Homo sapiens: one gene and its partner. The protein of the gene in region 2 interacts with the protein of the main gene of each other region in a pairwise test. Each region holds a gene or a part of one and is shown on either strand. Other genes may lie near its edges.

The links.
Region 1: the proteins of IL36RN (region 2) and ZKSCAN4 interact in binary tests that used the Homo sapiens proteins (3 or more experiments, as listed by UniProt).

What each region holds. Positions count from the first base shown.
Region 1 is NC_000006.12:28,248,565-28,257,588, reverse strand, and holds the start of ZKSCAN4 (zinc finger protein with KRAB and SCAN domains 4), read left to right. Parts: upstream 1-5,319; 5' UTR 5,320-5,608; coding exon 5,609-6,031; exon of another isoform or gene 6,032-6,044; intron 6,045-6,200; exon of another isoform or gene 6,201-6,724; intron 6,725-7,754; coding exon 7,755-7,902; intron 7,903-9,024. UniProt on the Homo sapiens protein: May be involved in the transcriptional activation of MDM2 and EP300 genes.
Region 2 is NC_000002.12:113,061,794-113,066,231, forward strand, and holds the end of IL36RN (interleukin-36 receptor antagonist protein), read left to right. Parts: intron 1-330; coding exon 331-458; intron 459-659; coding exon 660-884; 3' UTR 885-2,951; downstream 2,952-4,438. UniProt on the Homo sapiens protein: Inhibits the activity of interleukin-36 (IL36A,IL36B and IL36G) by binding to receptor IL1RL2 and preventing its association with the coreceptor IL1RAP for signaling.

The DNA of each region.
Region 1 (9,024 bases), on a different chromosome or scaffold from region 2:
AATTATTCCAAGGAAGAGATAACTGTTTTTTTTTAATTTTTATTATAAGTTCTGGGATACATGTGTAGAACATGCAGGTTTGTTACATAGGTATACACACGCCATGGTGCTTTGCTGCACCTATCAACCCATCATCTAGGTTTTAAGCCCCACATGCATTAGCTATTTGTCCTGCTGCTCTCCCTCCCATCCTCCACCCCCCACAGGCCCTTGTGTGTGTTGTTCCACTCGCTGTGTCCATGTGTTCTCATTGTTAAACTCCCACTTATGAGAACATGCAGTGTTTGGTTTTCTCTTCCTGTGTTAGTTTGCTGAGGATAATGGCTTCTAGCTTCATCCATGTGCCTGCAAAGAACATGATCTCATTCCTTTCTTATGGCTGTATAGTATTCCATGGTGTATATTACATACTTATAACAAAAGAAAAAGCACATTTTCATTGATGCAATATAATTATATTATTATTCAAACTATAATAATTGAGTATAATTTTGCAATGCATATTTTCTAATGGGAAGAATGAAATTGTTTTTTGGATGAATAACATTTTGCTTAATTAGGGTTCTGCCCTTGTAGGTCAAAAGTAGCCATAGACAATATGTAAGTGAATGAATATGGCTGTGTTCCAACAAAACTTTATTTATAGACACTGAAGTGAATTTCATATGATTTTCACGTTACTAAATTTTATTATTCTTTTGATTTTTCCCCAAGCCATTAAAAAATATAAAGATAATTCCTCACTCAGACCATTAAAAAACAGGCCATGGGGCAATTTTGGTCTGTAGGCAGCAGTTTGCTAACCCCTGACTTAGCAGAAAAAGCAGTGGTGCAAAAAGTATGCTTATAGGGATAAAAATAAATGCCTACCATACCTTTTTAATGGGAGGATGGGCTTTTATTTTCTAAATTTTATTTATAGATGAGCAAATGTTCATTTGCATACAGCATAGAAATATATTTGAAGAACTTTAAGAAAATAGGGACAGTTTTTGAAATAACAATACATTTTAATTATCAAGGAAAGTACCAGATGTTGAATGCTCAGCTAAAATGGAATTGTTCTCACAGGTAACCTTTTACTACCTTTCTTAAAATTTCTCAAAATTGTTTTTCATAAATCTTTCCTCTAGTTTTTATTTTATTTTATTATTTTTTGAGACAGGGTCTTACTCTGTTGCCCATGCTAGAGTGGAGTGGTACTATCATGGCTCACTGTGTACCCTTGACCTCCTGGGCTTAAGTGGTCCTTCCATTTGAGCCTCCTGAGTAGCTGGGACCACAGCTGTGTGCCACCATGCTCAACTGATTTTTGATTTTTTGTAGAACTAGACCCTGTCTCTAGACAGATGTTGCCCAGGCTGGTCTTGAACTCCTGGGCTCAAGTGACCCTCTGACCTCAGCCTCAGAAAGTGCTAGCATTACAGGCATAAGCCACCATGCCCAGCTCCCAATTTTTATTTTAAAAACTTTCAAACCTACAGAAAAGTTCAAACACCCATATATCATTTACCTAGATTCACTAGTTGTTACGATTTGGTTTCTTACTCAATTGAAAGAAAATTGCAGACATTATGATGCTTCACCTCTAACTATTTCAGTCATGAATGCATAAAAAGGACATTTTCCTTCATAATCACAATATCATCCTATGCCCTGTCTGAAGTCTCCTTAATCCTATTCTGAGAGTAGTCCCATTAGTTTTCTAATGAAGGATTCTAACTCAAGGTCATCAGGCACCCCTTTCCCTTATCCAACTACCCCCAGCCTTTACCCCCCAGGGCCCAAAAAAGTAAGCCCAACCAGGACCACCAGGAGTAGGGCCCCATATAAGCCCCTAAAGTCAAACCTATGTCCATTGCAGGAGGTAGCTGATGGAAATGGAGGAACACTTAGAGTACATGGGGCATTGTCTATCTCTAATTTGGCTTTATACAAGGAAAAATTTGGCCAGTTTTCAGAGAATCAAAAAAAAAGGCTTATACATTTTACCATATTCTTTAACTTGTCATGACTTGCAAGTATTGTCATTTGCTTGCTGTGCCATGAAAAGAAAAAAGGTAAGGAAAAATTGTGTGGTTAAGCCAGTCATTTATGACAAGGTTAAAGAAATAACTCAGGGAAAATGAGAAAATCCCACTCTATTTCAGGGTCATTTTGGTGAAACACTCAGGACATATACTAATGCAGACTCAGACTCCCAAAAAGGACAAGCTCTCCTAGGTATGCATTTTATTACTCAATCTGCCCCTTATCCTAGGAGAAAGCTATAAAAAGCAGCAATAGGACCTCAAACCCCTATGAGCCATTTAAATATGGCCTTTAAAGTTTACAACAATAGGGACAGGGCAAAAGAGATTTAACAATAGCCAAAAAGTGCAATTATTAGCAAATGCTTTAAGTCCCCTGACCCCTGAGGGTTACCCATCCTGAAATAGTGTCACAAGATGGGTGTCTGGAATGCCCAGAGAAGAGCCCCTGACTTGCCAGCCCAAATGTATAGGTTATTTACTAGCCAAACAAGATGGAGTCTGTGCAATTATTAATAAAACCTGCTGCACATGTAGTAACAACTCTGAACAGGTTGAATTTAACATTCACAAGATCTATAAGCAAGATACCGGGTTACATATCTATAATCAGGGCACTGAACCCAACTATATCTGGTCAATTATCAGAAGTGCCATACAAAGTCTCACCTAGTTTTTATCTCTCCTAGGACCTTTAATAGCCATCTTGTTATTACTAATCTTTGGCCCTTGCTTGTTTAACGTCTTTATAAAATCTGTGTCTTCTAAATTACAACAGTTCCAGATAAAGAAAATGCCGTCGCAGGGCTTCCAACCCATCCCATCTACTGACCCAGAAAATAAAAGCATCCCGCCTTTAGATATGGTATCCAGAGATTTTTACTCTTCCAGTGCTAGGCAGGGCCTATGCCCATAAACTAAGCAGGAAGCAGTTACAGAAGATGGACCACTGCCCTTCTGCAGCCTGCTTAAAATTAAGAAGGCATATCTAATCCCTGAGGGAGGAATGAGGTAGGAGGCAGAATTCAACTCCAGAAGTGGGGCTCCAACACCTGACCAAATTGAGGACTAGCTAAAAGAGGGAAGAGGCAGTATCACCTCTCCACCAGACATACCCACCAGTGTGCAATGTCAGTTACCATTGCCATGGCAACACAGGGAAGTTGCCACCCCTTTCCATGGCCATGACCAAGTGACTCAGAAGGTAATACCCCTTTTCTAGAAATTTCTGCATAATCTGGTGCTTAATTTGCATATAATTAAATGTAGGTATAAATGTGACTGCAGAACTGCTTTTGAGCTGCTAGTCTGAGCACACTGCCTAGGGGGTAGCCCTGCTCTGTAAGGAGCAGTACCTCTGCTGCTGCTGTACACTGACACTTCAATAAAAGTTGCTGCCTAATACCACTGGCTTGCCCTTGAACTCTTCCCTGGGCGAAGCAAAGCATCCTTTTGAGCTAAGCCCTAATTTTGGGGCTCACTTGTCCTGCATCATTCTGTTCTATAGAATGTCCCACATGTTGGATTTGGCTGATTGATTTTTTAAAGTGTCATTTAATTCCTTAACTCTCAAACTCACCTGCATGTTGGAATCACCTAGGAAAGTTGGCCAGGCGTGGTGGCTCACACCTGTAATCCCAGCACTTTGGGAGGCTGAGGTGGGCAGATCACTTGAGGCCAGGAGTTTGAGACCAGCATGGTGACGCATGTCTGTAATCCCAGCTACTCGGGTGGCTGAGGCACTAGAATCACTTGAACCCAGGAAGTGGAGGTTTCAGTGAGCCAAGATTGCGCCACTGCACTCCAGCCCTGGGTGACACAGCAAGACTCTGTCGCAAAACAAACAAAAACAACCAAAAAATGTTATTAATGCCTGAGTCCCATCCTGTGACATTCTGATTTAATTGATCTTGGTTGCAGCCTAGGTATCAGGATGTTTTAAAAGCTCCCCAGTGATTCTGTGTGACACAGAGTGTGAAAACTGCTAACTTAACTTATTTCTGTAAATATTTGGATCTAGAAAAGTACTTAGATTCAAGTTCACTTATAAGGATACTTCATGGGCAGTGCCCCCTACCTTCTGTGGTAGCTCATCAAGAGAAAGATATTTTGTAGTATTTTTCATTTGCAACAGTCTTTGGGACTTCTCATTTTCTTAAGTTATGTTATTTCTTAATCCTTGGAATGTAGAGGCATAGGCAAAGAAAGAAAAACTCAAGAAAGTACTGACATGATATTTTTTCCCCTCATAAACTACTGAACTTGCATTTTGTAGCTTCTCCATTCCACTGGGCAGAAAGGGGCTTACTGAAGTGTCCAGTCAAATAACTTACAGTCAATTATGGCTTAAAATCGAGTCCCATCTAGTTCAAAGAATTCTCAGGGCTTTCTTCTATTATAGGATAGGCCTAGTTTATCACATGCCAGGCACTGTTCTAAGCACTTTACACAAGAGTGCTCACAACATTATCTAATCCCTAGTAATGCCTACAACATCCCTATCTACTATTACTTTCCCTATTTACAGATTGGAAAAGTCGGGCACAGGGAGGGTAAGCCAGGATTACACAGGTAACCTGGCTACCTGCGTATCTAGCCACTGTGCTTGACTGTGATTGGGGGCTGGGAAGAAACAGGAAGGAAGAAAGCAGAAGAGAATGGGGTCCCTGAAGCCAGAGACTAGAGAGTTTCTGGAGGTGGAGAGCAGCATAAGCCTGATTGCCAGAGAAGCAGCCATGGAATGTGCAAAGTGGTGAGTGGGGGAGTGGGACAGTGTGTTGAGGATTAGTGGGAGGTGAGGGCTACAGTCAGGGTCGGGAGGAGTAGTCTGGCCTTAAGGAGGAGGAAAAAAAGTGACAGATTAAGGGGGTGAGTGGGGAAGGACCAAGGGCAGCCACTGCTCGCTCCAGGCAAGTGCCTGGTGATGTGTTCTGCTGCTTTGATGTTTCTGAGAGAGACTAAAGGTCCCCCTGCCAGGGTTCTTGGGGCTCTGGGGAACCCCTGCTTTCCAGCTCAATTTTAGTGTCAATTTTATGCCAGCTGCTTAAGCAAGCTTTACATAGGAAAGAAATATGAGCCGCAGCGGCATCCTTCCAGGATTTAAAGGCTCAGTCCTATTTCTTATGATCCAAGGTCTGTCATCCTTTCCTTCTCTATCCCTTAACTGCCTTCCCTTGCGTGGAGGTAAGGACAGGGTAGCTAATGGGTTAATTCGGAGACAACCACCGAGAGAAGCTTCCTAGAGCGCCCAGGAAGTGGCCTTAGTTCCCATCGAGACTTCCTGTGCCCCAGCCTCAACTTCCCTCCTATGTCTGGAGAGTGATCACTTTCACTCCCAAAGACATCCTTTGGTGATACTTACTGTGGGATTCAGAGTGGGGTGCAGAGGACGACCCTGCAAAGGCACGGACTATAAGAGAGATCTGTGCAGCTGCGCCTCAGGGGGTGTCCTGGGCCCCTGGGCATGACAGGAGGGGGACCACTTGCAGTTCTACTGGAAAATTTACCACCCTTCCAGAATCCTCTGAAGATATACAGGTCGCAACTAGAGTGAGACCCGAGTACTGCCTTGGGTCAGAATGGCTAGAGAACCGAGAAAAAACGCAGCCCTGGACGCCCAGTCTGCAGAAGACCAGACGGGGCTCCTGACCGTGAAGGTGGAGAAGGAGGAAGCCTCCGCCTTGACGGCGGAGGTGAGAGCACCCTGCAGCCCTGCTCGGGGCCCCGAACGCTCCCGCCAGCGCTTCCGAGGCTTCCGCTACCCGGAGGCTGCGGGCCCCCGCGAGGCGTTGAGCCGGCTCCGAGAACTCTGCGGACAATGGCTGCAGCCTGAGATGCACAGCAAGGAGCAGATCCTGGAGCTGCTGGTGCTGGAGCAGTTCCTGACCATCCTGCCGGGGAATCTGCAGAGCTGGGTGCGGGAGCAGCATCCAGAGAGCGGGGAGGAGGTGGTGGTGCTATTGGAGTATTTGGAGAGGCAGCTGGATGAGCCGGCGCCGCAGGTAGAAAGAACAGGTTTAGTATCTGAGCGCTGTGGTCTGTTTCCTCCTGAAATCCCAGATCGGAGCGAGGGGCATTCCTTTAAGGTCCAGGAGTTCTTCATCTCTTTTTGTACTGTGAACCTCCTTGGCAGTAAGGTGAAGTCCCTGGACTCCTTCTCAGAATTATATTTTTAAATATATAAAGAAACTATAAAGGATTACAAAAGAACACAACTATATTGACATACAGTTAGCAAAGAATTAAATTTGTATTAAAGTCATATATGTGGATTTTTATTACTGCACTAAATAATAAGACCTAGGGACAGGGCTTATAATTGGCAATTTCAAAATGGCGATAAGCATCTATTTGCCTGGTTGTAATGTGGTGTGAAAACGTGCAGGTTTTGTTGGTGACAAAGTCCTGGGTACTGCTTATGCTACCTTGATTTGTTGCTTCCATTCATAATTGAAGGAAATGTTAACTCTCTCTTAAAGACCAGTAAAAATAAGATTAGTTTTTGTCCTTTCTAAGTTCATGGACCACTTGGGAGAAAGTCCATGGACCACTGGTTATGAACCTCTGGTAGAAAGTGGGCCTATTTTTACCTCCATGTTCTTCCCTGTTTTATGAGGGACTGTTTCCTCTTTGCATCGTCCTGTGTCCCTGTGCACACAACTTCAGAGGACCTGTGTGGCCAAATCTTCTAACTGGTGAGCTGGATACCAAGGTTCTTGACTTAGGTCTATTGCACGCAAGCCCTGTAGCAGTGGGAAGTCATTGCAAATCTCTTAGCTTCATTCTTCATAAAATATGTGGGAAATTCTGAGCTGCACGTGAGACAGTAACTTGAAAACTGTAATTTAACTATCAATGTCTGGAAGGAAACCTGCTTTTAATGAGGACATAACTATGTGCCAGGCCCTGTGTTAGGTGATGTCACATACTGTGATCTTATTTACTGGTCTCCAAAACCTCATAAAGTAGAAATTATTATCCTCATTTTTCAGATTAGAAAATATATTAGTATTGAGAATTTAGCACCAGTGTCCAAAGGGTTTTCGTAAACACACAGATGTATATAATGAGGGAGCCTAGAGTAATGGTAAGAACACGGGATCTGGAGTCATTCTGTCTGAGCTCCCATCCTAGCATTTCCACTTATTAGCTGGGTGACATGGGCAAGCTGCTTAAACACTGTCCACCCTTGGCTGGGTGCAGTGGCTCACGCCTGTAATCCCAGCACTTTGGGAGGCTGAGGTGGGCGGATCACCTGAGGTCGGGAGTTCGAGACCAGCCTGACCAACATGGAGAAACCCGGTCTCTACTAAAAGTACAAAACATTAGCCGGGCGTGGTGGCACATGGCTGTAATCCCAGCTACTAGGGAGGCTGAGGCAGGAGAATTGCTTGAACCCCGGAGGCGGAAGTTGCGGTGAGGTGAGATCATGCCATTGCATTCCAGCCTGAGCAACAAGAGTGAAATTCCGTCTCAAAAAAAAAAAAACAAAAAAACCAACAACAACAAAAAAAATGCTGTCCACTCAGGAGAGAGGATCCGGGCCACATCTCCGTTTTCAGCAACTTATCATAAAAATCCAAAATAATAGCTCACAGGGTTGTTATCTATATTAATTGTGTTAATATCATAAGGCTTGTAGAAACAGTGCCTAGAAAATAGAAATCACTTGCACATGGAAAACATAGAAATGTTGGGTAGATAACTAAAAATCGTGACTTCTAGGTTCCCGTTGGTGACCAGGGGCAAGAACTGCTCTGTTGCAAGATGGCACTATTGACACAAACTCAAGGGTCTCAAAGTAGCCAGTGCCAGCCAATGAAGGCTCTGTTCAAGCATGAATCTCTGGGATCCCAGCCCTTACACGATAGAGGTGAGTATTCTCTTCTGGGTTGTATGAATTCTATAGACTTCATCCAATTTCATTTAAGGATCACCTAAAAGATCCATTTACAGTTACTTTATATACTCATCACAGAGAGCTGTATTTTAAGACTGAGACTAAGAGAAATTTCAAACAATGGTGAAAAACTTTCCTAACCAAACTAGGACATAGTAAATCTGATTTTATTAAAATTGATGTCTAGAAAGAATCGGTTTTTTAAACAACATGGTGATCTCCATTCATTAGATATATTTAGGGAGCCTTCATCTATGGTAGCCAGTGTTGTAGGCACTGGGGAGAGAGCCACCAATAAGACAGAATTCTTGCTTTGATGGAGCTTACATTCTAGCAGGGAGGATAGAAAATAAATTAATAATATAATTTTAGATATTGTTAAGTGCTATGAAGAAAATAAGGCAGAATTTGTAAAGCCAGCCAGAACATTCCAGAGATAGTAGGACTGCTGCAAATAGAAGAGTGTAAATCTAAACCCTGTAAAGCCTGTGACTAGAAGAGTGAAAATCACTTAATAGGAAGCAGCTGTGTGTTCCATGCTGTTCCTCATCTGCTGTGAACATCTGGGCCGATTCCTAAGACATACAACACTTGGACATGCCATCCAACATGCAATCTTTATTTCTCAGCAGAGTTTCTGGCCTAAACCAACTTATTTTCTGCCCCTTGCAAATTGACTTATTGTAGGGAAACCTAAGGTTTCTTCTGCTTCTGAGTCTGAGCAAGTTCTATTTAAGCAGTCTTCCAGTCTTCCATTGCCTCCTTTCTGGACCCAGCCTTATTTGACTCCTCCTAGTTTTTCTTTTTCTTTTTTCTTTTTTTTTTTTTTTTTTGAGATGGGGGTCTCACTCTGTTATCCAGGCTGGAGTGCAGTGGTGAGACCTTGTCTCACTGCAACCTGTCTCCCAGGCTCAAGCAATCCTCCCACCTCAGCCTCCTGAGTAGCTGGGAGCACAGGCCCATGCCACTACACCTGCTAATTTTTTGTAATTTTGGTTCAGACAGGTTTCTCCAGGTTGCCCAGGATGGTCTCGAATTCCGGAACTCAGGCAACCCACCTGTCTCAGCCTCCCAAAGTGCTGCGATTACAGGGAT
Region 2 (4,438 bases):
GGGGGGCTTATCAAGACAGGGTTCAGAAAAAGGCCTGAGACCCAAGGGACATTAAAGGAGGGGGTTGAATCTATTTTGGGGTGTAGAGGCTTGAAGATTTGACCCTGAACTAGAGGGTGGAGTGGAGGTGGTACAATGTGCTTCCATGCCTTGATGTCCACTCTGAGCCAGTGGACAGGAGAAGCCATGTCATGACAGCTGCTGAGAAGCCTCCCTTCTGCCCAGCCTGGGGGCAGGCCGTCTTACAGCAGTCCTGTGCCCTAGAGCCCAGGACAGGGGAAGAAGGAGGGAAAGGCATCCAGGGCCCTGCATCTGGCCTCTTTCCCACAGGTGAAGAGATCAGCGTGGTCCCCAATCGGTGGCTGGATGCCAGCCTGTCCCCCGTCATCCTGGGTGTCCAGGGTGGAAGCCAGTGCCTGTCATGTGGGGTGGGGCAGGAGCCGACTCTAACACTAGAGGTGAGACTTGGGGCATCCTCACTGGGGACTCAGCCACAGATGCTGAGCCTACTGAAGCCGGGCAGCCCACAGCCCTGGTGCTGTGGGACACCCTAGCAGGATTCTGTTGATGGCAGCTTTGCCTCCTCCCTAAGGATCCTGCCCAGCCCTCCCTCTGCCCCTGCTTCTGCCCTCACCTGACCTCCCCTCCTCTGCCGGCAGCCAGTGAACATCATGGAGCTCTATCTTGGTGCCAAGGAATCCAAGAGCTTCACCTTCTACCGGCGGGACATGGGGCTCACCTCCAGCTTCGAGTCGGCTGCCTACCCGGGCTGGTTCCTGTGCACGGTGCCTGAAGCCGATCAGCCTGTCAGACTCACCCAGCTTCCCGAGAATGGTGGCTGGAATGCCCCCATCACAGACTTCTACTTCCAGCAGTGTGACTAGGGCAACGTGCCCCCCAGAACTCCCTGGGCAGAGCCAGCTCGGGTGAGGGGTGAGTGGAGGAGACCCATGGCGGACAATCACTCTCTCTGCTCTCAGGACCCCCACGTCTGACTTAGTGGGCACCTGACCACTTTGTCTTCTGGTTCCCAGTTTGGATAAATTCTGAGATTTGGAGCTCAGTCCACGGTCCTCCCCCACTGGATGGTGCTACTGCTGTGGAATCTTGTAAAAACCATGTGGGGTAAACTGGGAATAACATGAAAAGATTTCTGTGGAGGTGGGGTGGGGGAGTGGTGGGAATCATTCCTGCTTAATGGTAACTGACCAGTGTTACCCTGAGCCCCGCAGGCCAACCCATCCCCAGTTGAGCCTTATAGGGTCAGTAGCTCTCCACATGAAGACCTGTCACTCACCACTATGCAGGAGAGGGAGGTGGTCATAGAGTCAGGGATCTATGGCCCTTGGCCCAGCCCCACCTCCTTCCCTTTAATCCTGCCACTGTCATATGCTACCTTTCCTATCTCTTCCCTCATCATCTTGTTGTGGGCATGAGGAGGTGCTGATGTCAGAAGAAATGGCTCGAGCTCAGAAGATAAAAGATAAGTAGGGTATGCTGATCCTCTTTTAAAAACCCAAGATACAATCAAAATCCCAGATGCTGGTCTCTATTCCCATGAAAAAGTGCTCATGACATATTGAGAAGACCTACTTACAAAGTGGCATATATTGCAATTTATTTTAATTAAAAGATACCTATTTATATATTTCTTTATAGAAAAAAGTCTGGAAGAGTTTACTTCAATTGTAGCAATGTCAGGGTGGTGGCAGTATAGGTGATTTTTCTTTTAATTCTGTTAATTTACCTGTATTTCCTAATTTTTCTACAATGAAGATGAATTCCTTGTATAAAAATAAGAAAAGAAATTAATCTTGAGGTAAGCAGAGTAGACATCATCTCTGATTGTCCTCAGCCTCCACTTCCCCAGAGTAAATTCAAATTGAATCGAGCTCTGCTGCTCTGGTTGGTTGTAGTAGTGATCAGGAAACAGATCTCAGCAAAGCCACTGAGGAGGAGGCTGTGCTGAGTTTGTGTGGCTGGAATCTCTGGGTAAGGAACTTAAAGAACAAAAATCATCTGGTAATTCTTTCCTAGAAGGATCACAGCCCCTGGGATTCCAAGGCATTGGATCCAGTCTCTAAGAAGGCTGCTGTACTGGTTGAATTGTGTCCCCCTCAAATTCACATCCTTCTTGGAATCTCAGTCTGTGAGTTTATTTGGAGATAAGGTCTCTGCAGATGTAGTTAGTTAAGACAAGGTCATGCTGGATGAAGGTAGACCTAAATTCAATATGACTGGTTTCCTTGTATGAAAAGGAGAGGACACAGAGACAGAGGAGATGCGGGGAAGACTATGTAAAGATGAAGGCAGAGATCGGAGTTTTGCAGCCACAAGCTAAGAAACACCAAGGATTGTGGCAACCATCAGAAGCTTGGAAGAGGCAAAGAAGAATTCTTCCCTAGAGGCTTTAGAGGGATAACGGCTCTGCTGAAACCTTAATCTCAGACTTCCAGCCTCCTGAACGAAGAAAGAATAAATTTCGGCTGTTTTAAGCCACCAAGGATAATTGGTTACAGCAGCTCTAGGAAACTAATACAGCTGCTAAAATGATCCCTGTCTCCTCGTGTTTACATTCTGTGTGTGTCCCCTCCCACAATGTACCAAAGTTGTCTTTGTGACCAATAGAATATGGCAGAAGTGATGGCATGCCACTTCCAAGATTAGGTTATAAAAGACACTGCAGCTTCTACTTGAGCCCTCTCTCTCTGCCACCCACCGCCCCCAATCTATCTTGGCTCACTCGCTCTGGGGGAAGCTAGCTGCCATGCTATGAGCAGGCCTATAAAGAGACTTACGTGGTAAAAAATGAAGTCTCCTGCCCACAGCCACATTAGTGAACCTAGAAGCAGAGACTCTGTGAGATAATCGATGTTTGTTGTTTTAAGTTGCTCAGTTTTGGTCTAACTTGTTATGCAGCAATAGATAAATAATATGCAGAGAAAGAGAAACAAATGCATTTGTTTTATTATTGCAATTTTCTCCAATATTTTTTATTTTCTTTCTCACAATGAACAACTATCCTTCATTTACCCAAATATTCTATTTAAAAGCTAATAATACAGCATTTGTTGAGTCATCTGGTTCTGCAAGATTGAGATCCTCTTGTCCTATGTGCCAGGAATGAACTCCAGTGTCCCCACCCAAACCCTGGGGAATGGGAGCAGAAGCCAGAGGAGGAGCCCATATCTGAGCCCCAGGTATTCCACCTGCACTTCACCTGTTGGACCAGCTTGGTGGTTGAGAGTCCACTGAGGCACTGGCAAGGAGGTGGCCAGGACAGACAAGGCTGCCTCTATGGACCTCACAGCTCCAGCCCAGATTCAGCTGAAGTCCTCAGGCAACAGGCAGCACAGCTCCTACCCCAGGCCTCTCAGGGCTGCCAAGAACATGAGCTCCGGATGCTAGGCTGTGTTTCAGACCCTGTTCACACTCTCTTTGTCCATGGGCCCAGACACAGTCTTGTGCTGCTCCCTCTGCTTTTGGGTCCTCCATCCATCCTCTCTGCCTAGATAAATCTCTCATCTTTCAATACCCTGCTAAGATGTCACCTCCTCCAAGAAGCTTTTACTGAGTTGAGACACCCCCAGCTATCTGATCTGGCAATGTTTGTATGCACCTCCCTGCACTGTAGTACCTTAACTTGGAGTCTGTGGCCCCTGGGATGACCTTAAGGTTAGGGACATATAAGTTTGTCTCTTAGCACCTTGCATAATGCTTGGCACATAATGGAAACCCAATGAGTATATAATGTAGAAACTATTTCTCCACCCTGGAATATTCTCTCCTTCTCCTCCACCCATCTAAACAGGCCCACCTCTAAGGGAGCAGCTTAAATTCCACCTCATTCTTGAAGGTTTCTCCAGCCTGAATTTGTTGCTTCCTCATTTGTAGGATGACAGAACTCAGAAGAGCTTTAGCCATGATGAGCCGACACAAGTCAGTAGTAAAAGAAGGAATATAAAATGCCTCCTTCAGGAATGTACAGGCTGGACATCATGACTCTACAAGTGAAAAAGAGTTAGTGGCTTTAGATTTCTGCAATTTTGGTATAAATCACTGGCCTGGACCTGTATTTACAGAGATGCAATACTCACATCATGTGGGGTTTGTACAAATTGCAGACATCGAGGAACAGAGAATGTTCCAAGGGCAGGCTGTAGGGAAGAGGCTACGATGTGGGAGGTATTATCCTGAAAAAAGCAATGCACAGGGAGCCCTCTTCAAGCACTTAAAGGCTTGCCAAGTAGAAGAATGTGCTTGTTCTGTGTAATTCCAGAACACACAAGCAGAACCAATGGGTGCAAATTATGTGGAGGCTGTTTTTCCTATATGACCCCCATATTTTAACCACAAGGACCACAAACATTGATAGGGTTTCTTCAAGAGGTTGTGTGGTCCCTGACCCTGGAGATGTTAAGGCAGAGCCTAATTAACC